4 linked regions of the Homo sapiens genome follow. The protein of the gene in region 4 purifies or fractionates together with the protein of the main gene of each other region. This does not show direct contact. Each region holds a gene or a part of one and is shown on either strand. Other genes may lie near its edges.

Region 1 (7,844 bases), on a different chromosome or scaffold from region 4:
CCAGGATGGTCTCGATCTCCTGACCTCGTGATCCGCCTGCCTCGGCCTCCCAAAGTTCTGGGATTACAGGCGTGAGCCACCGTGCCCAGCCGAAAGCAGTACGTTTTCAAAACGGCAGTAATGTACAAGGATTGTGTTCCATTTGATCAAATGTGCTATATTCAAAATAGCCCTAAGCTTAGCAAATGATATCTTCAGAGTGCAACATATGTGCACAGAAATCACATTTGTGTACTTTAATCAGTAGTCTCAATTATATGCCTAATTGCTGCATGTTTGCATTCAAGGTGATGATCCTGCAGGAAGTGCAGGAGAGACCCCCGGGTGGCTTTCGAGAGAACAGGTTTTTGTACTGATATCGGCAGCTTCGGTGAACTTAGGTTCCATGATGTGCTATTCTATACTTGGACCGTTTTTCCCCAAAGAGGTAAGACATTTTTAAATCCTTAGGACCTCTGTTTTTTTGTTTGTTTGTTTTTTAAAAGCCTTTTGAATTATTTTATTTTATAGTATATAAAATGTAAAAATCTGCATATAGGACAGATGGTGTATAGAACTCCAGCCAATAGAATACTTCTTATAGAATGCCTGATACCAGGAAAAAAAATCCAGTCAAAAAGAACATCTTCTTGGGAGGTAATTCACCTAAAAGTAGTTGATCTTCTGAGAATTACTTTTCTTACCATGTAGTCTGATTAATCTTTATTTGGTTTCTGCAACTGAAACAAAGGAGTGCACTGAATAACTGAGATTCAAATGTTACTGCAATAGGTCTGTGTTAAGACAGTAACTATTTTCTCGAGGTTTTATTCACATTTTAGAATTAGGACGTTTTGATTCCCGACCCCCCTTCCTTTTTTTTTTTTTTTTTTTTTTCCTTTCGAGACAGGGTTTCGCTCTTGTTGCCCAGGCTGGAGTGCAATGTTGTGATCTTGGCTCACTGCAACCTCTGCCTCCCGGGTTCAATTGATTCTCCTGCCTCAGCCTCCCGAGTAGCTGGGATTACAGGCGCCTACCACCACGTCCGGGTAATTTTTTTTTTTTTTTTTTTTTTGAGATGGAGTCTCGCACTCTCGCCCAGGCTGGAGTGCAGTGGCGCGATCTCGGCTCACTGCAAGCTCCGCCTCCTGAGTTCACGCCATTCTCCTGCCTCAGCCTCCCAAGTAGCTGGGACTACAGGTACCCGCCACTACGCCCAGCTAATTTTTTTTTTTGTATTGTTTTAGTAGAGACGGGGTTTCACCGTGTTAGCCAGGATGGTCTCCATCTCCTGACCTCATGATCTGCCCGCCTCCGCCTCCCGAAGTGCTGGGATTACAGGCGTGAGTCACCGTGCCCGGCCGAATTTTTGTATTTTTAGTAGAGACAGGTTTTTGCCATGTTGGGCAGTCTGGCTTCGATCTCCTGACCTCAGGTGATCTGCTTACCTTGGCCTCCCAAAGTGCTGGGATAACAGGCGTGAGCCACCACGCCCAGCCCCGGCCCCGCTCCATATTCCCTCTTTTGACTTTAATTTCTTATGGACTCTAGCGCCAATGTTTATGCAAGGGAGGAATTCTGATTAATAGGGCCTATTCCTTCTAGGCATAGCCTTTTATATGGTGTTAAGATTTATAGCTAATGACACAGATTCAAAGATAATAATCCCTAGAAAGTCCAACTGGATTCTAGACGTCAATAGGATATAGTATGAAATGAATATGACTGGCTTGGAGTGTAGACAACATATCCATGTGTTTTATTTTGTGCTTTTTGCCAAATCCTTGGCTCACAGTGCAGTGGAAGCTTGTTAGTCCTCCAACTGCCTTTTAAACATGTAGTCCTTCGTTCTGTGTGTTACAAAAGAAGATAAAGTGGCTTCTCTGCTAAAGGAACAATATTGCCATGTACCCATACAGTGCTCTCTGGCTTCTAGTACACATTACCCCTTATTTATCCATTTAATCCCCGCAACAACCTCATACAGAATCTTGAGAATCTCAGCATGTTGCAAATGAAGAAACGGTCTCAGAAGTTGTGACTTGCCCAATTCAGTTCTATTAACTAGAGGTTTAATGAGTCCCTTCTCTAGAGCAGGCTAAGCATGGGATGTGTTAGGGTAGTATAAAAAAATCAGGGAAATGGCTTTCTCTTGTCTGCCCTTTGGGAGTGAAAAAATATGGGAAAAAAAAGGTTCCAATAATTTGGATATCCCTTAAGAAAAGGATGTCCAGAATGTTATAAGACTGTTTTTTTTTTTCTTTTTTTAAATCATTTTCTTCTGGCTTCCCTCTATCCATACTAATGTTATGAGAGCCTAGAAAGAAGAATGGTTAATTCTGCCATACATGGAGTGTGGATAGCAGAAGAAAGGGCGTTACTGAAAGGAACTTTCAGGCTAAATCTAAGTTGGGGCTTTTTTTTTGAGACAGGGTTTCACTCTGTCATCGAGGCTGAAAGTACAGTGGCATGATCAGAGTTCACTGCTGCCTCAACTTCCCAGGCTCAAGAGATCCTTTCGCCTCAGCCCCCTGAGGAGCTGGGGCACAGGCATGTGCCACCACGCCTAGCTATTTTTTTCTATTTTTAGTAGAGATGGGGTTTCACCATGTTGCCCAGGCTGATGTTGAGCTCCTGAGCTCAAGCAATCCGTCCACCATGTTGGCCAGGCCTCTCAAATGCTGGGATTACAGGTGTGAGCCACCGCACCTGGCCTAAGGTGGGCCCTAAGAAGTGTTAATTCTTATGGTGAACAACAGAGATGGAGGTGTTCTAGGTATAGTCACAGGAAGAGCAGAGTGAATGGCATGTTCCTGGGGAACAACAGACAGCTTCTTGATGTGGCTTGAGCCTGGGGTGAAGTGAGGTCTAATAGGAGACAGTGGATCTGAGGAGGCAGGCCTAAGATAGAAAGGAAGGGCACTTGTCAAGGACTTAGTCAGTGGGCAGTCATCAGAGGTGTTTGAGCAAGAAAGAGCAGTCTGGCCAGACTTGGGATTTTTAAATAATAATAATAACAATAATAATGCCAGGCATGGTGGCTCACGCCTGTAATCCCAGCACTTTGGGAGGCTGAGGTGGGAGGATCACCTGAGGTCAGGAGTTTGAGACCAGCCTGGCCAACATGGTGAAACCCTGTCTGTACTAAAAATACAAAAATTAGCCAGGCATGGTGGCACGTGACTGTAGTCCCAGCTACTCAGGAGGCTGAGACAGGAGAATTGCTTGAACCCAGGAGGTGGAGGTTGCAGTGAGCCGAGATCGCCCCACTGCACTCTAGCCTGGGCAACAGAGTGAGACTCCATCTCAAAAAAAAAAAAAATTAAAAAAAAAATAATAAGAGCCTGTGGAATTGAGATGGAGAAGAATTGGAGTGAGTGAATCAACCAGTGAGAAGGGCATTTCCTAGCTCAGCTGGAACTCAGTGAGTGCAACTAATGTTAGTTTCCTCTAAGTGAATAGGGACAAAGGAAAACCATGCTGTGGGTGTGTGCTTTTTAAGTTTTTGATTGAGTTTTGTGCTTATAGGAAATGATGACCAAAGAAAAAAGTCAAGCTTTTAAAGAATTAAAGTTCATTTTATTCAGAAGTCTTACCGAGGACTATAGGCTGAGTATTTCAGTTCACAGTTCATGTACAGGTAGTAGAGACTCAGTACATGCACGGTCACATCAAAGTTTGGGTGTAAGAGTACATCTGGTTATAGATTATGAATGTACCTTTGGTAATAGTTTATAAACGCATAATCACAACCCTGTTAGATGTTATCTTATGTGTAGGAAAAGGCAAAGCTGGGGCATTTATCATTTAAGGAATGTAATAGCTCAGGCAAGAGATGTGGGGGACCATGTGCTCTATCCTGCTCTGTCTTCAACTCATCCCTCCCAAGAGTTGCATGTTGTCACAGAGTCAGGGGTTTTATGACATTATGCTGGCAAGCAGAAGTGAGCAAAATGTGACTTCTTACATTTGCTACTTTTGTCTCGCCTCGCAGAGGGAAGGCTGAAAGAAAGGAGATAGAGGCAGGAGAGAGAACATTCTAACTTTAAAAGCTGTAAATATGAAGAGAAGGCTTTGATTTTTCATTTCTGATTAAAATCTTGTGGTCAACAAATGCATTGGTGAAGCCTCACCCTTCCTCCTGCATGTTCTGTCATTTTTCTTATTAGCTAAGCTAACTGGGCAAAGGAAAAACAGTGCCTTTCTTAAATTATGGTGTGGGATTCCTACTTCTATTCATCATTTTTCTTGCCACACTCATCTTTTGTCAGAGGACCAGAAATTGCTTATTTATTTATTTATTTATTGAGACAGAGCCTCGTTCCATCATGCCCAGGCTGGAGTGCTGCGGCATCGTCTCAGCTTACTGCAACCTCCGCCTCCTGAGTTCAAACAATTCTCCCGCCTCAGTCTCCCAAGTAGCTGGGATTACAGGCGCGCATCACCACACCCAGCTAATTTTTTTGTATTTTTAGTAGAGACGGGGTTTCACCATATTGGCCAGGCTGGTCTCGAACTCCTGACCTCAGGTGATCCACTCGCCTTGGCCTCCTAAATTGCTGGAATTACAGGAGTGAGCCACTGTGCCCGGCCTAGAAATTGCTTTTAATAGCTGTTTTTGCTTTCCTAATGTGAAGCAGGATCCATGTTCCAAAAATGACATTCGGCTGCTGCTGTAGCATGTGGTTCTAGCACATCCTGTGTCAGCATTCCATTTCCACAGCGAATATGGGAACATGCACATGATGGAAACTGTAGTGGCTCATGACCTGTAACCTTTGCAAGTTCCTGTCCTCATCTATAAATGAGGCCAGCTAAAAATGTATCCTTTATTTAATTTAATTGTTGTTAGATACCATGTAAAACGGCACTTAATAAAGAGATTCTGGCTCATAATGAGGGTCTAATAAGTATTAATTGCTATAGGCATTATATATTTTCTGCTAGATTCTAAATTAAATACTTATCAGAACTATTAAGCAAAGAACATTGATAATGCAACTTGACTAATGAATGTCCTTCCTTCCTTCCTTCTTTCCTTCTTTCTCTTTCTTTCCTTCTTTTCTTTCTTTCCCTTCCTTCCTTCCTTCCTTCCTTCCTTCCTTCCTTCCTTCCTTCCTTCCTTCCTTCCTTCCTTCCTTTCTTCCTTTCTTTCTTTCTTTCTTTCTTTCTTTCTTTCTTTCTTTCTTTCTTTCTTTCTTTCTGACAGTGTCTTGCTCTGTCACCCAGGCTGGAGTGCAGTAGCACAATCTTGGCTCACTGCAACCTCTGACTCCTGGGTTCAAGTGATTGTCCTGCCTCAGTCTCCTGAGTAGCTGGGATTACAGGCACGTGCCACCACACCTGGCTAATTTTTGTATTTTTAGTAGAGACGGGGTTTTGCCATGTTGGCCAGGCTGGTCTCAAACTCCTGACCTCAAGTGATCCTCCCACCTGAGCTTCCTAAAGTGCTGGGATTACAGGCGTGAGCCCCCATGCCCGGCACGCATATTTTTCTTATGCGTTAATTGACTCCTTTCACAATACTTTCTTTTTGAGGAACCTGACCCGTGTGTAGTAGAAATGTAGACCTCATGTTCCAGTTGACATACAGCATAACCATTTGTCACAGTGCCATTAAAGGTATTTTAATGAACTCTCTCTTGTATCCACACCATTATTTCCTGTGGTTATTAGTACATGGAAAGGGAATGGCTGGTTATGAAGCCCAAGAATTATGGGCTTAAATCGTGCCCAAGCCATTACCATGGAGCTGTGGGCCCATCCTCTCTGCCCTCACCCACCACCAAGTGCTTAGGGACATTTCTGAGGACTTTTCCTAGAGTAAGAGAGAGATCCTTCCTAAAATTTAGCTTAGAACAATAGAGTTCACTTCTCTGGCTTCCTGTGGTATGACGCTATGAGGAATGTATGGTTTATTTAAAGAAGCATAGTCTGACATGCAAAAAAAAAATCCTTGAAAAAGACAAAGATTGAATGATGATAGTATCTTTACATGGGAAGGGATGGAGAAAATTTTTATCATCAATTGTAGAGAGAAAAGATAAAGAAAGGCAATCATGGTTATAGAGAATGGATGTTGAAGAGTGCAAAAGTATGTGCGCATGTGTGCATTTCTGTATTATGAAGTTATTTGCGAAAATCCAAAGCTCTGCCAAAAGGATGGATCTAAACTGGACTCTTCTGACCATAAATATTCACTGCTGGTACAATGCCTCATATATATAAGACGGTCAATATATGACAGTTCGGGCTTTCCTTTTGTAGTATGCTAAGTTGCCAGTCCTATCTTAAAGAAATTAAACTCATATTTTGATTCCTTAAATTTCTATAGCTAGAACCTGATTTAAGGATTTGCAATAGTTCCGGGACTTGACAAAGTTTTTTAAACTTTCTATTTTTATATGTGAATGTAGTTGTGTATCACAGTAGCATTTGAAGTTCAAAAGAAGTAGATTTATGATAAATATTATCTGTAGCAAATTTTAGGAGCTCCCTGATAGAATAGGCTATAAACATTAGTAACTGTAATTGATGGATGATAAACTACCTTGGCTGTTTCAGGAGAACGTAGAATGTCAGGGGAGCATCTCTCACCTGTGTTGTTGATGACAGGATGGAAAACTGTCTTCTCCAAACTGTCAGGTAATTGGTATTACTGTCAGAAACAGAGACCTAGACTGATTGGGCCTTGGTCTGACCCATGTGCCCACTCATGGAACTTCCTATTCTTGAGTTTGAAGACTGGCCAGTGTTTTTTGTTTGTTTCCTATAAATGTGATACCCAAAAGGAAGTGTGTCTGAATCAGCTGTTTCCTCAGTCCTGTGACTATGCAATAGAGCCCAAATTTCCTTATCCAAGGCATTTTTTTTGTGTTTGTTTATACACTCTGATTCTGACTTTTGCCACATAAAGCTAACAATTCTTTATAGGTATGGTGAGTGAATTATTTTCATGTAAGAGACTATGGTTTACTATCTAAACTATTAATAGTTTCCCTTCCTTCCCCACCCCATTTATTTTAAAAGAATAATCTTTTTGAAACTGATATACAGATAAAGTTCACAAGAAGATGATGCCCTGATCTATTATTTCCATTTTTTCATATTGATCTAATTTTTCTTTGAAACTTTGTTTCCGTTTCTATTACTTAAAGGCTGAAAAGAAGGGAGCCAGCAATACAATTATCGGTATGATCTTTGGATGTTTTGCTTTGTTCGAGTTGCTGGCATCCTTGGTATTTGGAAACTATGTAAGTATAAAGTTCATATGCACATCTTAATTTTTAAAAATTATATGATGGATTATTTTCGTTTACTAGTCTAGAATTTGCATTGATACAGAAATAGCCATCGTTATAGTTTTATAAATTGTGCCAGTGTTGACAGTTCTCTCCTCAGAGTTGATTGATTTTTAACTCTTTCCATGTTTTTAAGCAATGAGTACTGTCACCATATTAAAGAATTATTATAATATATTAACTGTACATGTCTTCCCCTATCCTATATTTGCCAATACAGTGGATTTGTTTATATCAATATAGACTTTCGGAAGTCATAAATTTACCACTCTTCTTTGACATTTATTATAGCTTGTACATATTGGAGCAAAATTTATGTTTGTAGCAGGAATGTTTGTCTCAGGAGGAGTTACAATTCTCTTTGGGTAAGTCATTTTCTGATTATATTTGGGAGCTTGAACAGATTTTGTAATGTATCTTCTGTTTAAATTGTTAAATACTCTTTAAGTCAATGGTTCCATTTATTGTCTGTCAAATGCATAGCATGTGACTAATGGCAGGAGTTGAGTAAGTAGAGAACAGGGATAAATGGCATTGATTTTAAGGAAACAGGCCTCCGGGGGA
Region 2 (7,844 bases), about 32 Mb from region 4:
ACTTGGCTCTATGAAGCCTAAACAAGAGGCAGACAACTCAGAAGCAAGCAAGCTGTCCTGAAGACTGAAGACATCCCTGGGATAGGAGGTCCTGCCTCCCCTCCCACCCAGCCCTCTGCAGAGCACTGATGTCTAGCCCCTGTGACTCTACTTAACACAAGATAGGAGGTCCTGCCTCCCCTCCCACCCAGCCCTCTGCAGAGCACTGATGTCTAGCCCCTGTGGCTCTACTTAACACAGGATAAGAGGTCCTGCCTCCCCTCCCACCCAGCCCTCTGCAGAGCACTGATGTCTAGCCCCTGTGACTCTACTTAACACAGGATAGGAGGTCCTGCCTCCCCTCCCACCCAGCCCTCTGCAGAGCACTGATGTCTAGCCCCTGTGGCTCTACTTAACACAGGACCCTCGTGGCTTCCAGTTCTTTATTAACTCATGTTTCAACTCCCATACCGTCTAAAATCTTGAAAACACAAGGGCTCTAAAACGCTTACACAGCTTATAGAGTGGTCTCAATTCTTCCCACTACCAGTGTGACATTTTTAAGACTTATGCCTTCATTTCTAAAATGCCACCTGCAAACACACAGGATAGGGTTCCTAACTCTGCCTATTAAATGATTAAATAAATCGAGGTATGTCCATTCTACAGGACACCATATATATTTTAAAACAAAAAAGGGCCAGGTGTGGTGGCTCATGCCTGTAATCCCAACACTTTGGACGGCCAGTGTGGGAGGACAGCTTGAGGCCAGGAGTTTGAGACCAGCCTGGACAACATATTGAGACCCTGTCGCCATAAATTTTTTTTTTAATGTAGCCAGGCATGGTGGCACTTGCCTGTAGTCCTAGCTACTTAGGAGGCTGAGGTGGGAGGATCACTTGAGCCTACGAGTTTGCGGTTTCTGAGAGCTATCATCACACTGCTGCACTCCAGCCTGCACAACAGAGCAAGACCCTGTCTCTAACAAAAATAAAATTTAAAAGTAAAAAATAAAAATAGGCATTTGAGCTGACATAGCAGAATGCCCATGGTATATTGTGGAGTGGAAAAATAGAATTCACAGAACAATTTGTATGGTAAAGTTCAAGTTCCATTTGCATGATTAAATATATGACTCTGTATATTTGCATATGCCCAGTTAAGAGTCTGTTAGGATACAAAGCAAGCAGTGAACAGTGGCTACCCTGGTGACTCTGCCCACCTGCAAGTCTTTGCTAAGAGTATGTTACTGTTTGTTTCTTTGTTTCTTTGTTTGTTTTTTGAGGCAGAGTTTTGCTGTCACCCCGGCTGGAGTGCAGTGGCACGATCTCAGCTCACTGCAACTTCCGCCTCCCAGGTTCAAGTGATCTCCCGCCTCAGCTTCCAGAGTAGCTGGGATTACAGGTGCACGCCACTACGCCCGGGTAATTTTTGTATTTTTAGTAGAGACAGGGTTTCACCATGTTGGCCAGGCTGGTCTCGAACTCCTGACCTCAGGTGATCTGCCCGCCTTGGCCTCCTGAAGTGCTGGGATTACAGGCGTGAGCCACCACACCCAGCCTAAGAGTATATCACTGTTATAAATTTTTTAAAGCAATACAAAATAGTCCCTGTGCACCAGGGCTTAGAAAAGGACACCAGAAAGTCCCCTGGAAAACTCTCCCTGGCTGTTCTAAGACTCCAGCTCTGCAGATGAGGTTCTGAAGTTGATGTTATGGCACAGTTTTCTCAGGAATCGGTGAATGTAGCCACTGAGTTGAGCACTTTTCCCAGAGGAAAGCTCCCAAAACTGGCTCCACTACACACCCCTCTGTGAATTCCAGGATTCCAGGCATCCCCATCCCACTGGGAGAAGGTAGTCTGGGACCAGTGAAGCCTTCCAAACAGGCCCACAAACTTAATTTGCATGCTCCCATTCTTTTATTTATTTATTATTATTATTATTTTTGAGATGGAGTTTTGCTCTTATTGCCCAGGCTGGAGTGCAATGGCACAATCTTGGCTCACTGCAACTTCTGCCCCCTGGATTCAAGTGATTCTCCTGCTTCAGCCTCCCGAGTAGCTTGGATTACAGGCATGTGCCACCATGCCTGGCTAATTTTTGTATTTTTAGTAGAGACGGGGTTTGTCCATGTTGGTCAGGGTGGTCTCGAACTCCCGACCTCAGGTGATCCACCTGCCTCGACCTCCCAAAGTGCTGGGATTACAGACATGAGCCACTGCGCCTGGCCTGTTCTCATTCTTTTAACAGGTGGCCTAAGATTAATGGTCTATTTGTTTTGTATTTTTATTAGTTACTTCACCTCATACTGCAGCTAAAACAAACGTATGCTTGTGTATTCAGTTAGTCATGGTAAGTAAAAAATATTTTGTGCAGTCAGAAGGGAAGTTTAGGGATCTTTTTCTCTATGCACTAATTGGGGTTAGTGTGTTCTACTGAAGGGTTAAAGAGAACAGCAGTGTGTTCTTTATTCCACTCTAGTTCATCACTCAGGGCTACGGAGCAACGATTTGAAGGCAGTTTTATCCAGCACAATTAAATCAAAGTTCCCAGGGCCTATGGTCATTAGACTCTGTGGGGAAAAAAAAAAAAAGGCGTCTTTTCAAAAGTGAGGCCTTTTCAAGAACTCTACTATGTGATACAAAGTTCTGAAGGGCTCCAGGTACCCCATCAGCCTCACATCACGGACTGGGGAGGGGATTTTGCACACATCTTGATGTCTCCATTTGCAGCTTGTTCTCATTGGGTGAGCAATGATTTTCTAACCTTGCATGGTTTTTGTTTTGTTTTTGTTTTTGTTTTTGTTTTTGTTTTCAGACAGTCTCACTCTGTCACCCAGGCTGGAGTGCACTGGCGTGATTTCGGCTCACTGCAACCTCTGCCTCCCAGGTTCAAGGGATTCTCCTGCCTCAGCCTCCTGAGTAGCTGGGACTACAGGCACCCGCCACCATGCCTGGCTAATTCTTGTATTTTTAGTAGAGACGGGGTTTCACCATGTTGGTCTGGCTGGTCTCGATTTCCTGACCTTGTGATCCACTCGCCTCGGCCTCCCAAAGTGCTGGGATTACAGGTGTGAGCCACCGCACCCGGCCGTGTTCATTCCTTTTTAAAAAAATGCTCTTCAAGGTAACCCTTGAAGAAGGTACCAGAGAGTGACTGTCTGCCCTGCCCCAAGCTGTACCCTGATCGCAACTTGCTGGCCTACAGGCTGTGGGACAGTTCAGGAACAGCACTCTTTCCCTGCCCCCTCCCACCTTCTCACTTCTGAAATGGGTGATGGTCTTGGGCTCCTCTGAAAGCCTCCTCTAGCTGCAAGGCAGGCCCTGGCCCCATCTCCAAACAGGTAAGGACAGCCTCCTGTACCTCTACCTGCCATGTGCAGCCTGACATCTCGGCCCCTTCCCCCGGAGGCCAGCACTTGAGGTCCCCAGCTGCACCCTCACCGCTCAGCCTGCCCAGTTCTTGTGTCCCAGTTGGCCAGTGACCACTGGTGCTTCCCCAGAGGTAAGACAGGCGAGTGGGAGGTAAGACTCAGCCCCACTCCCATCCCTACCATGCATTTTAGAAACATTTCAACCAAGGTAAAAGACAGTAGGGTTTAGAGGTGACCAGGAGAGTGCATCCCAGAACACTCCCCTGAGGAAAGTGGGAGACACAATGTGAGGAGCTGCTGCTCTGCATCGTGTGACCAAGCAGAAACCCAGCAGAATTTTCACCAGAATTCTAACATTGAAAAAAATTCCGGCGGTGGCTCACGCCTGTAATCCCAACACTCTGGGAGGCCGAGGCAGGTGGATCACCTGAGGTCAGGAGTTTGAGAGCAGCCTGGCCAACATGGTGGAACCCCGTCTCTACTAAAAATACGAAAAGTAGCCAGGCATGGTGGCAGGCGTCTGTACTCCCAGCTACTCGGGAGGCTGAGACAGAATTGCTTGAACCCGGGAGGCGGAGGTTGCAGCGAGCTGAGATCACGCCACTGCACTCCAGCCTGGGCAACAGAGCAAGATTCTGTCAAAAAAAAAAAAAATTCTTTCCTTTCCATAGTAAATTATGTAGAAGACATTTTCCCTAAGCAGCACCTGGAGGAGGGGAAGCTCTGACAAAATCCTGGCCCAGATGGAACCACTAACTGCACCAGCCTGAGCCCCCTCTTTCCTACGCTCCTTTAAGAGAACTTCCACCAAGACAAGAAAATCCTGTTGAGAGAAGAGCTGGACTCCAACAGTGAACTATTCTCCTAAGGCAGAATCCTGCAAACACACGCAAATCCACACTCATCCTTTTGCTGGTGAAGAGAGAGCACTAATGGCAGAATGTACATACCCAGGATCTAGAGTCAGATGGCCTGGGTTCACACCCCAGCCAGGCCACTTCCTAAAATATGACCTCGGCTTCCTCACTTGCAAAATGGGAATCATGATCATAACACTGGCTACCTACTAGGGTAGTTGGGAGGATTAAACGGTCATACACATAAAGCATCACCATTCTGCATCATAGTGGCCCTAGAAAGATAAATCTACAAACTCCAGCTCTTCCCTTGTGTCTGCTCCTGCTGAGGCTCTGAGAACTCACAATAACAATAACAACATAGCAGCTAATATTTATCAATCACCAAGTGCCAGGTACTCAGTGCAAAATTTAAAATTTTTATATATATACACAGATTTATTTATATGTATGTTAATCTTCACAGCAACCCAGTGAAAGGGGTACTATTATTACTTCTAGAACCTACCACACAGACATGTTAAGTGACTTGCCTAAGGTCACACAGCTAGTAAATACTAGACTCTCTTAGGCAATTGTAAATCTTAAGAGCCATGAAGATTTTCTCAAAATACCCAAGTTTGGGAGTTATAGGATCCTGAGGCAGGGCAACCCTGCTCTTCCTGAAGTGCTGCAACGCAGCCCCCAGTCAGCGAATGAGAGCCAGGCTAAAAGGACCCCTTCAGATTAGGCTAAAATACAGAAAGATGTTGGCCGGTTGTGGTGGCTCATGCCTGTAATCCCAACGCTTTAGAAGGCCAAAGCCGGCGGATAACCTGAGGTCAGGAGTTCAAGAGCAGCCTGACCAACATGGTGAAACTCCATCTCTACTAAAAATACAAAAATTAGCTGGGCGTAGTGGCACGCACCTGTAATCCCAGCTACTCGGGAGGCTGAGGCAGGAGAATCGCTTGAACCTGGGAGGTGGAGGTTGCAGTGAGCCGAGATCATGCCACTGCACTCCAGGCTGGCAACAGAGCGAGACTCCGTCTCAAAAAACAACAACAACAAAACCCAGAAAGGTATTTAAGCCAGTATGTTCTGTCAGGCAGCCAGCTTCCCGCAGGCCCGACAGAGAAAGAAATGAAGGCAGGGGAGGCCCAGCTTTTGAAAGTTCTTCTCCAAAGCTGCACTGGCTGTTTGAGATGCAGGCCACAGCACCTCATGTATAGAGAGCTTTTGGGTTAATGGTGAACCACCGGATCCTGGATTACCAAGACCAAACAAAAAACAACATCCCCAGAAAAGAACAAGAGGAAAAGCTGATCAAATGGTAAAGAGATGGTGCAGAGGGAGAGGTGAGCTGGGCAGAGAATCTGATAGGATATCTGGGGCATTTGATCACCGGCTCCTGGAAACATGCTTTACTTTATTTTACTTATTATTTGTTTGTTTGTTTGCTTATTTATTTATTTATTTTGAGATGGAGTCTCCCTCTGTCACCCAGGCTGGAGTGCAATGGTGCCATCTCGGCTCACTGCAATCTCCACCTCCCCGGTTCAAGAGATTCTCCTGCCTCAGCCTCCTTAGTAGCTGGGATTATAGGCATGTGCCACCACGCCTGGATAATTTTGTATTTTTGGTAAAGACAGGGTTTCACCATGTTGGTCAGGCTAGTCTCTAGCTCCTGACCTCAAGTGGTCCATCCACCTCAGCCTCCCAAATTGCTAAGATTACAGGTGTGAGCCACCGCGCCCAGGCTTACATGTTTTATTTTAAAATGTAACCTCCGCTTTGATGAAAAATAGTGAGACCCCTCCCTGGGTCCACAAGACTGACTCCCAGAGTTACCTGAAACATGGAGGCGTGTTGTACAAGGAGCTGTTTCCAGCCTGCACCTTGTATTCCAGGACCGAGGGGCACTCTCGGAGGGCAAACCCCAGCAGGTCATCACGGACAATCACCACGGTGACCCCAGCAGAGCCAACATTCTTCTGGGCACCAGCAAAAATCACACCAAACTTAAAAAGAGAAAGACATGCTGCTTAAGAAGGATTTGGCCATTTTTCATACATGTATGCAAACTTCCCAACTCTTCCCGAAGCACAATTTTTTTAAGGAAATGACTCTATCCTGTGTAGGGAGCAGTTCATGCTCTAAAGCAATCTCCATGTGGACAGCAAACCCATACTCAGAGTTCCAAAGCCTGAGGATGATCCGTCAGCCTGGTCCTCACCTGGATGGGGCTAACCCAAGCCCATCACTGCAAAGTCCTGGCACATATTCACATTCGCTCTGCACACCTCCTTTCTACCCCCAAAGTAGAAAGGAGTCTTTAACGTGGGGCCTCTAACTCTCCCTGGTTACCAAGAGAAGAAACATTTTTTTTTTCTTTTGAGACGGAGTCTTGCTCTGGCACCCAGGCTGGAGTGCAGTGGCGCAATCTCGGCTCACTGCAACCTCTGCCTCCCGGGTTCAAGCAATTTTCCTGCCTCAGCCTGCCGAGTAGCTGGGATTACAGCGTGTGCCACCATGCCCAGTGAATTTTTGTATTTTTAGTAAAGACGGGGTTTCACCATGTTGGCCAGGCTGGTCTTGAACTCCTGATCTCATGATCCACCCTCCTCGGCCTCCCAAAGTGCTGGGATTACAGGCCTGAGCCACTGCGCCTGGCCAAAACAGATTTTTTAATCTATTTACATTTGTATAAAAGAACAGTCAGAAGGTGCTGAGAAAGGGACTGTTATGACAAAGAGAAGGGATGGGACAAGCTGCCTGAGGGAGAAGAAATTATAGAAAACAGAGGCTTAAAGGTACTTTAGGTAATTCTGTTGTGCAAGATACAGAACCCTCTCCCATGCCTCTCTCCATGAAACCCTTAGGAAAATTGAGCGTTGGCAGGAAGTTGGGGGTGGGGGAAAGTAATTTATAGTTATTTAAAATTGCCAGTGCCTGGTGATAATAAAAAGCAGACCATAAACCAAATACAGTATATCTAAACAATTATTATTCAGCCTTTAAAAAGAAAGGAAGCTCTGACACACAGTACAACATGGACGAACCTTGAAGACATTCTGCTAAGTGCAATAGAACCTTGAAGACATTCTGCTAAGTGCAATAAGCCAGACACAAAAGGACAAATAGTACATGATTCACTTCTAGGAGATACCTAGAGTAGTCAAATTCACAGAGACAGAAACTAGAATGGAGGCTGCCAGGGGCTGGACGGTGGGGAGAGAGGGAGTTAGTGTTTAATGTACAGATTTCATCTGAGAAGATGTAAAAGTTCTGGAGATGGATGGTGGTGATGCCTGCACAACAATGTGAATGCTCTCAATGCCACTGACCAGTATATTTAAAAATGGTTAAAATGGTATATTTTATATTAAATGGTAAAATTTGTTATATTTTATCCCAATTAAAAAGGCAGAATACCACTCAGTCAGTTCAACTGTTGTTCTTAGATTCTCTACCCGCATCGCACCCTGGGGCATGTACCTACAGCGCCAGTCCCACTGCCCTGCCTTGGCAAGCCACTCATAAAACGGTATCCTGTTGATGCTTTTGGAGGTGGGTACCAGGCAAGGGGAAGCTCCCTCACATAGGTCCCCTGGGCTCGGGATAATCTGCATCTGCTCTTGAAGACAAGTCTCTC
Region 3 (8,608 bases), on a different chromosome or scaffold from region 4:
TCCAGAGGAGGGGAACCCCCAGGACCCTGAGCTCTGGCCTGGAGAGAAGTACCCTAGATGCCTATGCTGGGTGCGGGAGCATCACTCACCCAAGAAACATGAGAGGCAGTGTCTTGTAAAACAGTCTAATTAACAACATGTCCCTCTCCATGATCAAAATAATGGGTTTAATCAAAGCAAATTAGTTTAAAAATGGAAACAACATGCTTGATGCTAAATCAAATCCCATTTTAATGGCTTTACTAAAAATAATGGTAGGTTACACCTTAAGTGGATTTGGTAATCTCCACAGGCTAGACTTGAGCAAGAGGATCTGGGTTTGAAACCTAAGAGAAAGAAACCAGACAAGAAGGGCAGAAACCAACAGAGGCAGAGGCTTCAGCTGCTCCTGGAGCCAGGGGTACCCATTTGTCAGACTTTTCACAGGGTCTCTGTGATTGTAATCAAGGGAAGAGTGCGAGAGTTGTGCATCACTACCTACTTCCTACCTTTCTCTGAACCTCCTCTCCCTTGAAAAATTGAAACGTACAGAAACTGACTCTAAGAATACATGATCTGTAATGTGCAAAAGAGCAAATAAGCCCAAGTTCATGAACACCGACACGAGGGGCCAGGCATCTAAACAACTCTGGGTGATGCTTATTATTGAGGCTAGCAGACACATAGAAATTAAAAAGAGAAACAGTTTTTAGAGTAGGGTTGAACTTCAGCACAAAATATCTTCTTCAGAGCAAGTACAAGTGGTTTTTCTTTTCTTTTTCTTTTTTTTTTTTTTTTTGATATGGAGTCTAGCTCTGTCGCCCAGGCTGGAGTGCAGTGGCACGATCTTGGCTCACTGCAACCTCTGCCTCTCCCGGGACCAAGCGATTCTCCTGTCTCACCCTCCCTGGGATTACAGGTACCTGCCACCATGCGCAGCTAATTTTTTTTTGTATTTTTAGTGGACACAGGGTTTCACTGTATTGGCCGGGCTGGTCTCAAACTCCTGACTTCATGATCCACCCGCCTCAGCCTCCCGAAGTGCTGGGATTACAAGCGTGAGACACTGCACGTGGCCTCACAAGTGGTTTTTCATAGCAATAGGATTATGAAGTCAAATCTCAATTCTGGTATTATCAATGCCAATTGCCACTTTTTTTTTTCTAATTAAAGGATAATTGCCTTTAAATGCTATCTCTCTAGGAAATATGGGGAGAAAATTCAGAACTATACTGTCCAATATGGTAGCCACTAGCCTCATGTGGCTATTTAAATTAATTACGGCTAAATAAAATTTAAAATTCAGTTCCTCAATTACACTAGCCCACATTTCAAGCGTTCAATAGCCACATGTGGCTCATGGTTATCATACTGGACAGATTACAGAACATGTCCATCAATGCAGAAAGTTCTTTTGGACAGCACTGATCTAGAAAAGGCTGTTTATAGATGCCAAAAAGGAAAATATTAATTTCTCACTTAGTAAAAGAGCTTCAAGCCCTACCTACCAAAGCTGGTTTGACTCAGAATAGTTTGGGGCTGAATTTGAAGGCTACTGCCAAAGATTTCACGATTATCTCAAAATATTCTAAATGGCTGATCTAAAATCTCTTTGCATGATGATTGATTTTCCATTGCCACAAGTTGTCTTTCAAAATCTAAACATACCAGAAAAAAAAAAAAATCTAAACATACCAGGAAATGATATTTGGTGATAACAATAACTTAAAGTTCCAATAATTTATGAACAAGTTTTAAAATACTTAGAACAACTATGAAAAAATATAAAGCTACATGGCACCATCAGCTCCAGGAGTAAAAATTTATAGTTAAAATAAGTAGGGGCTGTCAGGCTTCTGAGCCCAAGCTAAGCCATCATATCCCCTGTGACCTGCACGTATACATCCAGATGGCCTGAAGCAACTGAAGATCCACAAAAGTGAAAATAGCCTTAACTGATGACATTCCATCATTGTGATTTGTTTCTTCCCCACCCTAACTGATCAATGTACTTTGTAATCTCCCCCACCCTTAAGAAGGTTCTTTGTAATTTCCCCACCCCTAAAAATGTTCTTTGTTAATTCTCCCCACCCTTGAGAATGTACTTTGTGAGATCCACCCCCTGCCTGCAAAACATTGCTCCTAACTCCACCGCCTATCCCAAAACCTACAAAAACTAATGATAATCCCACCACCCTTTGCTGACTCCTTTTTCGGACTCAGCCCACATGCACCCAGGTGAAATAAACAGCCTTGTTGCTCACACAAAGCCTGTTGGTGGACTCTCTTCACACGGACCCATGTGACAGGGGCTGGGCACAGTGGCTCCTGGCTGTATTCCCAGCACTTTGGGAGGCCGAGGCGGGTGGCTCAATTGAGGTCAAGAATTCAAGACCAGCCTGATCAACATGGTAAAACCCCGTCTCTACTAAAAATACAAAAAAAAAAAAAAATTAGCCAGGCATGCTGGTGGACGCCTGTAATCCCAGCTACTTGGGAGACTGAGGCAGGAGAATCGCTTGAACCCAAGAGGCGGAGGTTGCAGTGAGCTGAGATTGTGCCACTGCACTCCAGCCTGGGCGAGAGAGTGAGACTCCGCCTCAAAAACAAACAAACAAAAAAAGTAGGGACACACTTATTACACACCTGTGTCTAGTCCTACGCTTTTCATGAACTTAGACCTGGATTCAATAACACTTGGACCCTATAATGTTTTGGGAACTTCAGCACACATCTCATTGGACCCTTACCAGAACCTAATCACACCGTAGTGCTGATTCTAAGTGTTACAGATTCTTCTGTGAAAGGGGATGACTGAGAAGTAATACATTATCTTGTCAGTGCTTGTCTTGCTTAATTGGTTACTGAACTGATCCCAAATGGCCAGATTGCAGTGAAACCAAATGGCTGAGATTGCGGGGTCCAGCTAGCTTTTCCTCTCTCATGACTCCAGGCTGCCCTGCTAATCTGACCCACTGTACTAAAGAGGTGTGGGTCACAGGCGAGACAAAGCAGGAAGACAGACAAGAGTGTAAAGCAAAGGGCCTTCTCTCTTGACAATTGCAAAGCAGATAAAGTGAGCCCAAAAACCCCTGCAAGGTCATTGTGAACATGATTGTGGTAGTTCTACAACAAAGGCTAAATAGAACGCATTATTGTGTTCACGCAAAAAAAAAAATTACTCCATAGAGCAAATTATCCCCCCACAAAGCAACATGGAAAAGGTATTTGTAAGAAATGCATGAATTAAGCAATTGCTCTGAAGACTTAAATGCCAATTTAAATAATCCAAACAGATTGCATTCAGCTAATGGCAGATTATAATAAACATGCATTAAAGTGTTTTTCAAATACTTTAATATATTTGTGAATGTCATAACATCTATCAACTAGTCATTATTGTTAGCAAAACTTCTTTACCCTTTTATTTACCATGTCCAGTTTGTGAGCTTCCAACTTGGGGGACTTGCAAAACATTTATTAAATAATGTATAAAGGACACACCATTAAAATTCCTACGCTTATGCCTTGAAGATTAAACTCACATTTCTAGCTCATTAATAGATGACAGCTATAGTTAATCCTGGAAACATGGAGTCTCTAGAACACATACAAGAAAAAGTTTGGGATTTGATACATGAGAGCTGAGACTAAAATTCTTTGATCGGTCACATATATGGGCCTAACAATTTTTCCTTGAAATAGGAAACTTTAAGTAGGTCAGTTTAATGACTGCTACCATGGAGTTTATAAATCCACACTCAACTATCCTTTCGATGAACTGCTGCCCAGAATGGAGTTATAGCCCTGCACTATTAAAATGTCTTTGGTTCAAGCAGAGAAAGATGCAGAAACTGATCCTGCCATTTAGGCTTTGTTATTGTTTTAGATCCAATAACTGTTTGGTTTTGTTTTTCAACATGGCATTGGTATATCTGGTTCCCCAACAGGACCTCGCATGTAGGACATCGGAGTGGGTTCACTCGGGAAGATGGACTTCCATTCTACCTGAGCTATGTTCCCACATGCGGTCACAATCCTGGCCCAACCGTGAAAGGCGGTCTGGCCGGAATAAACCTGACCAAAAAGATCAGTGAAATGTGTGGGACATCATAAAGTGCTGTGGGGGTAGGGGTGGAGGAAAGGAATGAGTAGAGAAAAAAGGAGCATGAATTTAAAATGGGAAAACCCTCTCATACTCCATTTGATTCATTTAAGGAGGGGAAAACCACTCAAGGACTCTCTCCAGAACCCAAAGCTAATCACTTTTTTATTGCAGCAGATTACCAAAGAGCCTAGGTAACCCACCTACCACGGCCTCCCGCCGAAAAACCAAAAATCCCATTTCTTCCCAAGTGTGCGCCCAGGAAAGGAAGGAAGACTGTGCATTTAGAGTGGAGGGCGGTACACAGGGCAAAGCAAGTTAGTGCCTCCTTCCCAGATCCCCTGCTTCCCGAGCCAGCCTGACCTGGCTAACCGCAAAGTGCAGGGAGAATGGCACAGGGACCGGGAGGTCAAACTTGGGGTCGCTTCTCACCCGAGTCCACCCGATAACGAGATGATGGGGCGGCGGGTGGGGACACCTGTCAAAGGACGGGGCCGGGGCCGGGGCCGGGGCCGCAGCGGGCGGGCTGGCTGGCGGCACTGCGGCGGCGGGGACCGAGGCGCGCCGGCTCGGGCGTTCGCAGGTCGCGGGGCAGAGCCGGCACCGACTCCTGGACTTGCCGGGGAGCGTGCGCCCGCGGAGGGCTCGGGCGGGCGGCCCCGCGCCCGGGACGCTATGGGAGGGGGCCGCAGCCGAGCAGGGCCCCGCAGCCGGGCGGACCCAGCCGCCCCAGCCGCGCTGCAGCCCCCGCCGTCCCCGGTCTCCGCCTGCGGGCTGCGCACGGGGCCGGGCCGGACGCCCCCTGGCTGCGCGACGGGCCCAGGCAGGGGAGGGGGCGCCGCGCCTACCTGCTCTGGTGCGGCGGGGCCGCTGTCGCCTCGAGGGGCTGTGACCTGCTGCGGTGGCGGCGGCGGCAGCAGTAGCGGCGGGTAGGGCGCTTCCTTCAGGAAGGGGTGGGATCTGCTCACCCGCCCGCCCGGCCCCCTCCTGCCGCGCCGGGGCCCGCCCCCGACTTATTCTGGGGTCCCCGCTGCTAGGCCTTCGGGGAGAGTTGATCCCCTGGGTCTCGGGCTTCTGCCACCCCCCCGGGGCCCCTAATAGTCACCCGGGGCAGGAGCCGGGTGTGGGCGGGCGAGCCGCTTCCTTCCGAAGCCTTTGTGGACGCGTTTGCCTGGCGCTCCTCATCCAACAAAAGGAAGGACAGAATCTTGGATCCTCCGCCTGGTGGTTATTTATTCCTGACCTGTTGTAACCTTCTGCCTGGCTCTCTTTCGTCCGCACACCTAGGGTTTTTGCACAAAGCAGCTAAAATTCATTTTCATGCCCATTGACTGAATGTAGTTCTCCTCCACTCAGCGCTGTCCCGCGGTTTTTGGTTTTTTTTTTTCCATCCTATTGAACAAACACAGAGCCAACTTCGGACCCTGGCAATGAACAGCAGACACCAAGGCCGACCTCCCAGCGCCAGCTTGCAGCTTTCCTCCCTGGGTCTCGTCTGAGTCCGTCATAAACTGTGTTCATCAGCGTTTTGACAGCTTCCCCCATCCCGGACCCCCAACCTACCATGGGACCCCATGGCACCATGTCAGTGACCTCTAGCAGCAGCATGGATCAATGCCATTTTTATCTTAGGCTCATCATGAGCCTGGGTTCCAAACACAACCTCTCTGGCCTCCAACAGGTGGCTCTCTATCAACCGGCCTTTGTCAGTCTGCCCTCTATTCTTTTGGGGGCTTCCGTAGCACACCTGTCTCCTTTAAACTGCTGTCTCTACACAAGCAGGCATTCCCTTTTTTTCTTTTTCTTTTTCTTTTTCTTTTTCTTTTCTTTTCTTTTCTTTCTTTTTTTTTTTTTTTTTGAGACGGAGTCTTGCTCTGTCGCTCAGGCTGGAGTGCAGTGCCGCAATGTCGGCTCACTGTAACCTCTGCCTCTCGGGTTCAAGCGATTCTCTCGCCTCAGCCTCCTGAGTAGCTGGGATTACAGGCGCCCGCCACCATGCCCGATTAATTTTTGTATTTTCAGTAGAGGCGGGGTTTCACCACGTTGGCCAGGCTGGTCTCAAAACTCCTGGCCTCAAGTGATCCGCCTGCCTCAGCCTCCCAAACTGCTGGGATTACAGGCGTGAACCACCGCGCCCGGCCCAACCAGGTGTTTCTAAGAATCTTCTCCAATTCAGCATATTCAAATTCTGCAATTAACGTTCGGTTCCAGAACTCTCCCTTCCCCACAATTCTTGTGATTATTGTCTACTATGTGTATATTGATTCTTTTTTTTTTTCTGTATGTTGATTTCTTGTTACTGTTTTCTCCTGGCTACTAGACTGTAAGCTTCCTGAGACCAGGGATCTTGCCTTCTCTTGTTTTCCTTATTTTAATGAGTGGGACTGTTATCCATTCAATTAAAATAGCAAAAGCAAAAACTGAATCTTAGTCTAGACTCCCTTGAAAGTATATGCTCAATTTTGTGGGAATTAGCTTATGTGTACTTTTCTGAGGAGAGTAACTACACATTAATCAGACCCTCAAAGTGGTCTGACTCCCCCAAAGGTAAGATTGCTTGAGGCCCATCCATGAACCCCTCCTCTCTCTACTCCCTGTCCCCATGCCATTCATTTCTCTCTGCAATAACGGAAAGAGTCCTCTAGCTAGATCTTCCAATTCATTCTTTCAGAAGTAGATCCAGCCAAAGAATTAGCTGTCCCTCAAACACAGAAGTGGTACTCTGTTTTCACATCAGAATCACCAGTGGGGGCTTTAGAAAATGATGCCTGGGTTCACCTCAGACCCAGAGTCAAAACCTGATTGGAGGTGGCGGGGGAAACCAGAACACAGGTATTTTGACAAAGAACCGCAGGTGATTCCGACATGGCCATGCCATATCACTCCCTTTCTTGGGAATAGGGCTCCCAATTTGTAAAATGCCCTTACTTTCCCCTCCCCCATTTTTTTGTGGAAGGATTGAGAATCCATGCACCAGGTTTAATTTATTTCAACATTTTCATTTTCATTTAGAGCCAGGCCTATGTTTCCTAAAAAAAACCAACTTGAGTTTGTGAGGATCGCAGGCTCAGTGCCATTCCTCAGCACCACTAAATCACCGCCGCCTTCATCTCCAAAATGTCCCTCCAAATAAACCCAAAAAGCAAAATGAATTACATTCCTGACAGTGATATTACCAGCTGAAATTGTGTGTTAAAATGCTGGCCATGAAGGAGAGTTGGTTGCTATAAGCAGATTCTGTTAATGTCATGAGAGTTCGAGCGAAGCTTCGAGAGTACAAGCAAAACATGGGCTTCTCTGTGCCTTTTTCTTGGTATCCCATCTGTTAAAATTTGTTGTCCACCATGTACTCAATATACCCTTAGATATTTTAAATCATATATGGGTGTAAGACTGAAATACTTTTCCAGAACCGGTTGTCCTTTTTTCTTTTGAGTATTTTTTGGGGGATGAATTTTAAATGAATCTCTGAAGGCTTCCAGCCAGCACTTGCTTCTACCTCACAAAGACCATTAAAGGCCCCAAGGCAGCTTGGTCCTGAGTATTTGGGGAGTGAGAGTGAGGAATTGTTGTGTTGATGAGGCAAGCACATATTTGTGAGGATCTTCCTACATCCTCTTCTTATTCCTTTTTTTTTTTCTTTTTTTTTTTGAGGTGGAGTCTCGCTCTGTCGCCCAGGCTGGAGTGCAGTGGTGCGATTTCGGCTCACTGCAACCTCCGCCTCCCGGGTCCATGCCATTCTCCTGCCTCAGCCTCCCGAGTAACTGGGACTACAGGTGCCCGCCACCACGCCTGGCTAATTTTTTTTGTATTTTTAGTAGAGACGAGGTTTCACTATGTTAGTCAGGATGGTCTCGATCTCCTGACCTCGTGATCTGCCTGCCTCGGCCTCCCGAAGTGCTGGAATTACAGGCGTGAGTCACCGCACCCGGCCTCTTACTCCTTTTTATAGGAAGCTAGCTCTCGGAGTATGTGCTATGCCTTGGCATCACTTGGGAGGTTGTCACATTGGTCCATTATAAAATGTGACATTGAATAAAGGTTCTGTCCCACTTCTGCCTCCAATTCAAAGGCCATCTCTGGAATGGCCATTGGCAGTGAAGGATTTAGGTTCTCTGTCTAACATCTGCAGCACTCCCCCTGTTCCCAAGAACTCCTACACCACTGAGCTTGGTTCTGCCCTCTCATATGTGAACTCTCTTCCTCTTATTCTCAGAACTCTCATGTGTGTCCTACTGATGGTAAGGAGTTTGATCACAACTGGCTGTCTTTTTAAAAATTGCATACAAATATTCATTTTGTACCTTTAAATGATCTGTTGATATGTTCCAAAGTGATTCAGTCTGTGAGGAAAGACCAAGCACAGAGTTAGAGACTGGGGCATGGAAGAAATAGAGCGTAAGGCCCAGAAAGAGATGCCAGCCACAAACTTTGTAAAATTTTGTGTCAAATGGAGATCCATACTCAGAGACATCAACATTCTACAGAACCACAACGAGGCATCCTAATTTCAACACCATGTTG
Region 4 (7,844 bases):
TTTTATGAGTATAGATTAAACTCATGCTAGCTGTCTAATAATTTCATGACATTAATAGCCCTTCTATACACATATGGGTTTACTGATTTCCTTGATTTTCTAATAAATTTTCTACTAGACCAATCCAATTCATAATTATTTTTATTACATTCTTCTAGCATTTATAATAATTTGTACTTTACATGTTTAGTTACTATGTTCTATGAGGCATAGTGATCCAAGACACTTTTCTTTTTATATGAAGCTCTTTACCAATGTAAAATGTCACTCTTGTCTTGTTTTAGTGCTTTTAGCTTTAAATTTCTAGTATTAATAATGGTAATTTTTTCCTTGTATTTATGTTAACCTAGCACCTCTTTGTTCCTCTTTTATTTTTCTTTTCTTATAAACAACATATACCTGGGTTTACTCCAATCAGATAGCCATTTTCTATTAATAGGAGGATTTAGCCTGTTCATATTTTATATCACAACTGATATACTCTATTTTATCCCTACTATCTTAACTGTATATTTTCTATTCGCTTTACGTTTTTGCTTCTTCTTTTTCTTTTTCTTTACTTGTTACTGGTTATGTTTTCTCCACTGCTAAGTGAAAGTCAGACACCAATTCTTTCTACACATCGCAGTGCTCTATTTATTCTTCATTTCTGCCCACCCCATGGGACTTTCAGAATCTCCAGGAGATCCTCAGACTGCTTGGATCTTCTTCCTTACCTCCCCTGGTACTCTTAGGTTTCTCTTTGCAGAGTGATTCTCAATATTGAGTCTTACCTAGCGAATTAGCCAAGACTCCACCCATCACAGCCCCTTCACATGTATCCTGAAGTTATTTTCTGATTCAATTGTTATTAAGAGTCTCCTCATGTATTTCCTTAGAAGGGAAAGTGTCTTGGGAGACAGAATCCCTGAAGCCTTGTGTGTTATCAAATTGTTTTCTTTTATTTGGGTAGTTGAAAAGTGTATTAACTGGGTATGGAACTCCTGAGTGACATTTCTTTGGGTGGTTTATAGATGTGATTTCACTCTTTTCTAGCTTCTAGTGTTGGAAGCAGGTAGTCTGGTGTGAATTTATTTTTTTCCTGTAAGTAATTTATTCTTTCTATCTAGGCAGAAACTTTTTGATTTTTCCCTTTATCCGTGATATCTGTATGATAAAAATTGTTTAATCATGTGCTATTGAACATCTCTTTCCAACTCCATGATAGGGCTTCATGTTGGGAGCTTGAGATAAGCTATGATGGGAATCTTTATCCCATTGAAATCAGGATGGTAGACAGACCTTTCTAATGCAAAAAGTTGATCATGCTATTCCACCTCGTAAAACACTCCTATAAGACCCTCCATTTGCTGCAGGGCATAGTCCAAATTACTTAAATTGGTATACAAGGACTTTTATCACTAAACCTGATATCTGCAGCTTTACCTATAGATACTCCCCAACTCCAACAATGAAACTTCTAGGTGCACTTTTAGAAAGGCATCACATCTGCTTAGTTCAGATCTTGGTATATGCTATTACTTCTTTATAGAATACTATCTCTCTACCCTGACTCCATTCTACTCTCTTAATTCCCCCATCCCACACACACGTTTGTGTGTGTTTTTTTGTTTTGTTTTGTTTTGTTTTGTTTTGTTTTGTTTGAGACGGAGTCTCACTCTGTCGCCCAGGCTGGAGTGCAGTGGCACAATCTTGGTTCACTGCAAGCTCCGCCTCCCGGGTTCACGCCATCCTCTTGCCTCAGCCTCCCGAGTAGCTGGGACTACAGGCGCCCACCACCATGCCCAGCTAATTTTTTGTATTTTTAGTAGAGATGGGGATTCACCGTGTTAGCCAGGATGGTCTCGATCTCCTGACCTCGTGATTCACCCGCCTTAGCCTCCCAAAGTGCTGGGATTACAGGCGTGAGCTACTGCTCCCAGCCCACACCTTTTCCTTAGTCTGTTCAGGTTGCTATAACAAAATGCCACAGACTGGGTGGCTTATACACAGAAATTTATTTCTCACAGTTCTGGAGTCCAAGAAGTCCAAGATCAAGGTGCCAGCAGATTTGGTATCTGGTGAGGACCCATTCCTCATAGACATAGCTGTCTTCTCCCTGTGTCCTCACATGGCAGAACGGGCGAGGGAGCTTTCTTGGACCTCTTTTATAAGGGCATTAATTCCATTTATCAGGACTCTACCCTTATTCATTTCAACACATGAATGTGGGGGAAAGACACAAAGACTCAGATCATCATAACCTTCAACTGGTTACTGGCTACTCACCATTTATGTTTAACTTACAGTTACTCACTCTAGAAAACCTTCTCAGTATGTCTAAACCTGAGTTAGTGCCAGCCCTGAACGAGACTCACAAGCATCGTGTTCTTACTACTCCTATAATGCTTCTTATATTTTGTTTTATTTCTCCATTTATTCACTTGTGTCTCATGACAAGCAAAGACTTCTCATGTTCACCACAGTGTTCTGGATACCTAACAGTCACTATTGATTTAGTGAATGCATTTACATATGGATGAATGAGTGTATAAACTCCCGTAGTGTTCAGAGGAAAAGAATCAAGACAGAAAATTGGTGAGAGAAAAGATAAAAAGGAAAAAGAATGACGATTCAAAGTGATCCTTTAGACCCAAAGAGATCATTGATGTAGTTCAAGGGAAGATCAGATCAAATCAGAAGCAGTCATCAAGGAATAACAAAACAAAACTATCTTGAAGGAAAGAAACATTTAAATCCATAAAGCAAAATTATTGTTCCAACTATGTCATTTCTTGCATTTTAAAAAAACTCACTAAATCATCATAGATTTTTCTTTTAACATGACAGTAAATTCTACTTTCTGATTCTTTTTAGAAAAACTAACCTTATATTTACCAGTGAAATTACACTACCAACTTTACTAATTACATTATATTCCCTCACATGTTATATATGGTGTGAGATGCTCTGTAAACTCCAAATACAAAAATAGTTATTTCTCCCTATCTTTTAATAATTGTTCCAACTTTATTATTAGCAGAAAGCAAAGCTCGTCAATTTAAGCCACCCCCTACCACCACCACCCACCCATCTTAGATCGAGAAAACTTGGGATGACTCAGTCCAAAGAGAATCAGACTAGCTTTCAAGTCAGTCAGAGAGGAACCTGGTCAGTCTGTTGAGTCCACCACTCCTGTGGTGCCGGATGAGGCATGCTGTCACTGATCTTGCGCAGATGTTTTATTGCTGTGCTGATGTTCTTCCAGTTCCAGGTGCCTGCCTGAGTCACAGTGGTGACCAGGCCTGGCATCCGCAGGCTTCAGAATCACTTGCTTAGCCATTGGTACTCAGGGCATAATCACTGGGTCCACTTCATGTATGACTAAGAAGTCATACATGAGCGTCTCTTGTAGCCTCCAATTTTGCAAGTGCCCTATTTCAAATGCTTTAGGCATCTACTGCCATAAAGGTTTTATTTTGACTTTGTAATATGTTATATTAATATGTCCCCTTCTATTAAATCATTATTCTCTGACTATGATGTAGTCAGTTGCTAATATTTCGTTTAGGATCTTCTAAACTTAGGTTGTATAATCTATGTATGCTCTTTTCTTCTGTGCTAACATTGCCAGGTTGTGATATTGGTATTATAATAATTTCTAAAATAATTTGAAAGAATTTTCTCTTACTGGAACATATTATAAATATGGAAATTTTATCTCTTTCAAGACTAAAAGAATGTCTTTTATAATGTGATGACTTAAAAATCTAGTTTCCTGCCTATGGTAATATTTATATTTTCTAATGCTTCAAATTTGGGGATTAATATGTTCCTATCATTTTCCTTAAGGTGTGAAATATAATAATTACACATTATTTTAATTAACTTTGAATCTGTTATAACTTTTTTATCATTTCTAATTTTCTGTTTGTACCTTTTCTCTTTAATTAAAATTCCATTGATTAGACTACTATATGAATATTTATAAAACCAACTATTGATCTTTTAATTCTATCATTTGTGTTACGTGTATTCTAACTTATTAACTTCTGCTTGTGTATGGCTGTTACTTTATTACCTATTATCTTTTGTTTTCTGTAGTTATTGTTTCTTACCCAAAGTCTTGGGTTAAATGTTCAGTTCATTTACTTTCATTCTTTTTTATCTAGTGGAAGGAGATAACACTATGACTTTATCTTTGAGCACAACTTTGGCTAAATAAAATACACACTATTAAGAGGCTTGTGTCTAATCTATAACTATAGTTACTCTCTAGTTTTTGATCAAAAAGTCATTGATTTTTTTCTTTTTAAAAATGTCCCATTGGATTTTATTTAATCTATTATTAATTGCACTTTGGCCATTAAGTAGATATGCATAATTTCTGCCTTTAAAATTTATTGAGATTAATCCACAAATATTTGAAAGGAAGGTTTATTCTCTATTTTTGGGTACAAAGGTCATTCTTAGCTATTAAAACATTGTTGCTGATTATTTTAAAATACTCTGTATCCCTGTTTTTGTCTTTACTCAATCTGTTAAGAGGATTTAAATGTGATTAATAAGGTTCTTTTAATACATATACAATGGACTTTGTACTCTACAAATAGTGGTATGAGTATGGCATCTTTTGGTTTCCAACAGTAATGCTGATTTTACTTTATACATATCACATCGGCCTTTTAAATTGAAGTTTGACAGGAGTTCAGTTTTTAGATGAATTAACTTCTCATTTGTCTCCTAATATTTTCATTTTTCATCTTCTTTCATGATTTTTCTTCTGTTTGTAAACTGACAGTAAATGTATATAAAAGCTCAGCTCTAGACAATCCTGATGTCAAGTGTAATTATGTGAAAATATTTTATTTGATAATTTCCATGATTTATGTCAGGTCATAGATAATATGATTCAGTATAAATGGCACCAGCCCAAGATCTACATTTATCTCAGAAAAAAAAAACCTATTTCCTCTCTCTGAGTCTCATCTTTAAAATTCTATTATTCTATAAGCTGGATTTACTTACAACTAGACCTTACTGAACTTTATAAATATATAACCAGGGAGAACCTGATACATAAATATATTATTATCATGAAATTTATTTTACTGATTGCTTAAATACAAAAAATTGCTTCTTAAAGGTTTGAGAATGAATGAAATAATTATTCTTTACTTACAGCATTCCCACCAATGACGTCCTCAAAGCCAAGTGTGGACATTCCAAATCTGCCTTCCTCCTCCTCTTCTTCCTTCTCTGTCTCACCTACATACTCCATGACTGTAATAATCTCCATCATGTCCAGCTTTGCAATATTTGTGCTTCTTACCATAACTACTCTCTATTGCTGCCGAAGAAGAAAACAATGGAAAAATAAGAAAAGGTGAGATTCTAGTTTCAGCTAACCATGTGTAGTAATATTTTAAAGCCTTGTGTTTTATGGAGTTGGTATGACGTGAGGAATATATATGACACTGCAACTCTCTAAATATATCCGTAGCCCTGCTTTAAAATTAAGCACCCCCATCATGATCTTTACAAATGTCAATGACTTTTTGGCATGGGATCAAATCAAATGCCCTAGGGTTACTGTTTCACAAAAGGTAAAATCTAAACAATAATTTGGAGGAAAATGGCTATTCCTGCTCCTTGTCTTCTCCTCAGGCCTGTTGCCATTGCTGGCTTGGAGAGCTAAACATTTCTGAGAAAATGTGCCTTTTGACTCTAGACCAAACAAAATATTTTATTGCTCTCAAAACGAAGGATCTTTGGCTGCCTTAGTATAACTTGTTTTCATTACTCTTAAATGCCATATTTCTTAGAATCTAAGTCTAAGTACAAAGATCTAACCTGCTTCTGAGCTCATTCCTGATCTTGCCTGTCTTGCCTGCAGAGAATCAGCAGCAGTAACCCTCACCACACTGCCTTCTGAGCTCTTACTAGATAGACTTCATCCCAACCCCATGTACCAGAGGATGCCGCTCCTTCTGAACCCCAAATTGCTCAGCCTGGAGTATCCAAGGAATAACATTGAATATGTGAGAGACATCGGAGAGGGAGCGTTTGGAAGGGTGTTTCAAGCAAGGTAAAGTTACCTATGGAAAAAAAAACTCCATTGAAATATGTTATGTCTGAAAAGCTACCAAACTATTAGCTTGGTATATATATAATATTAGCTTTATATATATATACACACACATATATATATATATATCAAGCTAATGATATAGTACATATATATGTACACTGTGTGTGTATATATATATACACACACACATATACATATATACACACAGTGTAATATACAGTATTATATAGTATTAATACAATATTATATATGTATTATATGGTAATAATATACTATATAAAATAGTTTTTATCAAGTTAGTTAATTCTGGCCAGGTGCGGTGGCTCGTGCCTGTAATCCCAGCACTTTGGGAGGCTGAGGCGGGAGGATCACCTTAGTCAGGAATTCAAGACCAGCCTGGCCAACATGGCGAAACCCCGTCTCTACTAAAAATACAAAATTGAGCCAGGCATGGTGGTGCACAACTGTAGTCCTAGCTACTCGGGAGTCTGAGGCAGAAGAATTGCTTGAAGCCGGAAGACAGAGGTTGCAGTGAGCCAAGATCGCGCCACTGCACTCCAGCCTGGGTGACAGAGCAAGACTCTGTCTCAAAAAAAAAAAAAAAAAGAAAAGAAAAACTAGTTAATTCTTTACATCATTAACCTTATTTGTATTGCATAATACACTTCAAATCTTAATTTCCCCTCTTTGCTGGAAAACAGTAGCCTATATGGAGATAATATATTTTACTGCACTTAAAATAGGTAATTTATTGGAGATGTAAATGTGTCTTCACTTCTACGATTTTTAAATTATAAGAAATTAGTAATATAGTTCAATAATATTTCCTTTTCAGGAAAGAATTTACCATATATTTTTAATCATAATTTCTTACATTGTTTTAAATAACTCCTTACATTATAATATAATGTATAGATATTAAGTAGATGTTCATGAAATGACAAACAGAAAAGGAATAAAAAGGCAAAAATTTATAAAAAATGAGCTCAAGAAAGGAGTATGTATTAGGGCCAATATTAGCCTATGTATCACCTTTGTGCGAATTGGAATAAAATACCCTTTCTGCTGCATGGATATGGCTCCACAGACACACAGCTGAGCCAGAGAATATGAATTTGGTTTTAATCTCCAACTGGCACTTCGGCCTGGTGCTCTTGGGCAAGACACAACTTAATCTCCACCCATGGTGGCCCTGGCGTAGAGGTTACATGAATAGTGAAAATCTCACACAAACATGTCTTGGAAACCAAAATTTGCAAGGCACCACTTTAGGCTCAATGGAGGGTACAAAGATGAGTAAGCCATAGTTCCTACGTCATGGAATTTAGATTCTGGACAAAGATTAAAAGGTTAGGATGTGGCTGGGCGCGATGGCTCACACCTGTAATCCCCGCAGTTTGGGAGGCCGAGGTGGTCATATCACGAGGTCAGGAGATTGAGACCATCCTGGCTAACACAGTGAAACCCTGTCTCTACTAAAAATACAAAAAATTAGCCAGGTGTGGTGGCGGGTGCCTGTAGACCCAGCTACTCAGGAGGCTGAGGCAGGAGAATGGTGTGAACCCAGTATGTGGAGCTTGCAGTGAGCCTAGATCATGCCACTGCACTCCAGCCTGGATGACAGAGTGAGACTCTGTCTCAAAAAAAAAAAAAAAAAAAAAGGTTAGGATGGCAATGATAATCCTATTGGGGGTGTATACTTCAGAATTCCTATAATTTGTAAATAATGCATCTTTCAAACTTCATTGTTTGAAATTGTTGAAAATAACACCAG

What was found.
Region 1: the proteins of MUSK (region 4) and SLC18B1 fractionate together in Homo sapiens (co-fractionation; one large-scale study listed by BioGRID). This does not show direct contact.
Region 2: the proteins of MUSK (region 4) and PSAT1 fractionate together in Homo sapiens (co-fractionation; one large-scale study listed by BioGRID). This does not show direct contact.
Region 3: the proteins of MUSK (region 4) and TMEM150C fractionate together in Homo sapiens (co-fractionation; one large-scale study listed by BioGRID). This does not show direct contact.

The regions. Positions count from the first base shown.
Region 1 is NC_000006.12:132,789,565-132,797,408, reverse strand, and holds part of SLC18B1 (MFS-type transporter SLC18B1), read left to right. Parts: intron 1-287; coding exon 288-427; intron 428-6,543; exon of another isoform or gene 6,544-6,624; intron 6,625-7,136; coding exon 7,137-7,232; intron 7,233-7,571; coding exon 7,572-7,645; intron 7,646-7,844. UniProt on the Homo sapiens protein: Proton-coupled polyamine antiporter involved in the translocation of polyamines from cytosol into secretory vesicles prior to their release via exocytosis.
Region 2 is NC_000009.12:78,306,780-78,314,623, reverse strand, and holds part of PSAT1 (phosphoserine aminotransferase), read right to left. Parts: intron 6,211-7,844; coding exon 6,041-6,210; intron 1-6,040. UniProt on the Homo sapiens protein: Involved in L-serine biosynthesis via the phosphorylated pathway, a three-step pathway converting the glycolytic intermediate 3-phospho-D-glycerate into L-serine.
Region 3 is NC_000004.12:82,556,974-82,565,581, forward strand, and holds the start of TMEM150C (transmembrane protein 150C), read right to left. Parts: upstream 5,016-8,608; 5' UTR 4,933-5,015; intron 1-4,932. UniProt on the Homo sapiens protein: Nonselective cationic channel with high permeability to Ca(2+). Component of a mechanosensitive cation channel, confers mechanically activated (MA) currents with slow inactivation kinetics. May contribute to proprioception.
Region 4 is NC_000009.12:110,779,652-110,787,495, forward strand, and holds part of MUSK (muscle, skeletal receptor tyrosine-protein kinase isoform 1 precursor), read left to right. Parts: intron 1-5,161; exon of another isoform or gene 5,162-5,163; coding exon 5,164-5,365; intron 5,366-5,875; coding exon 5,876-6,067; intron 6,068-7,844.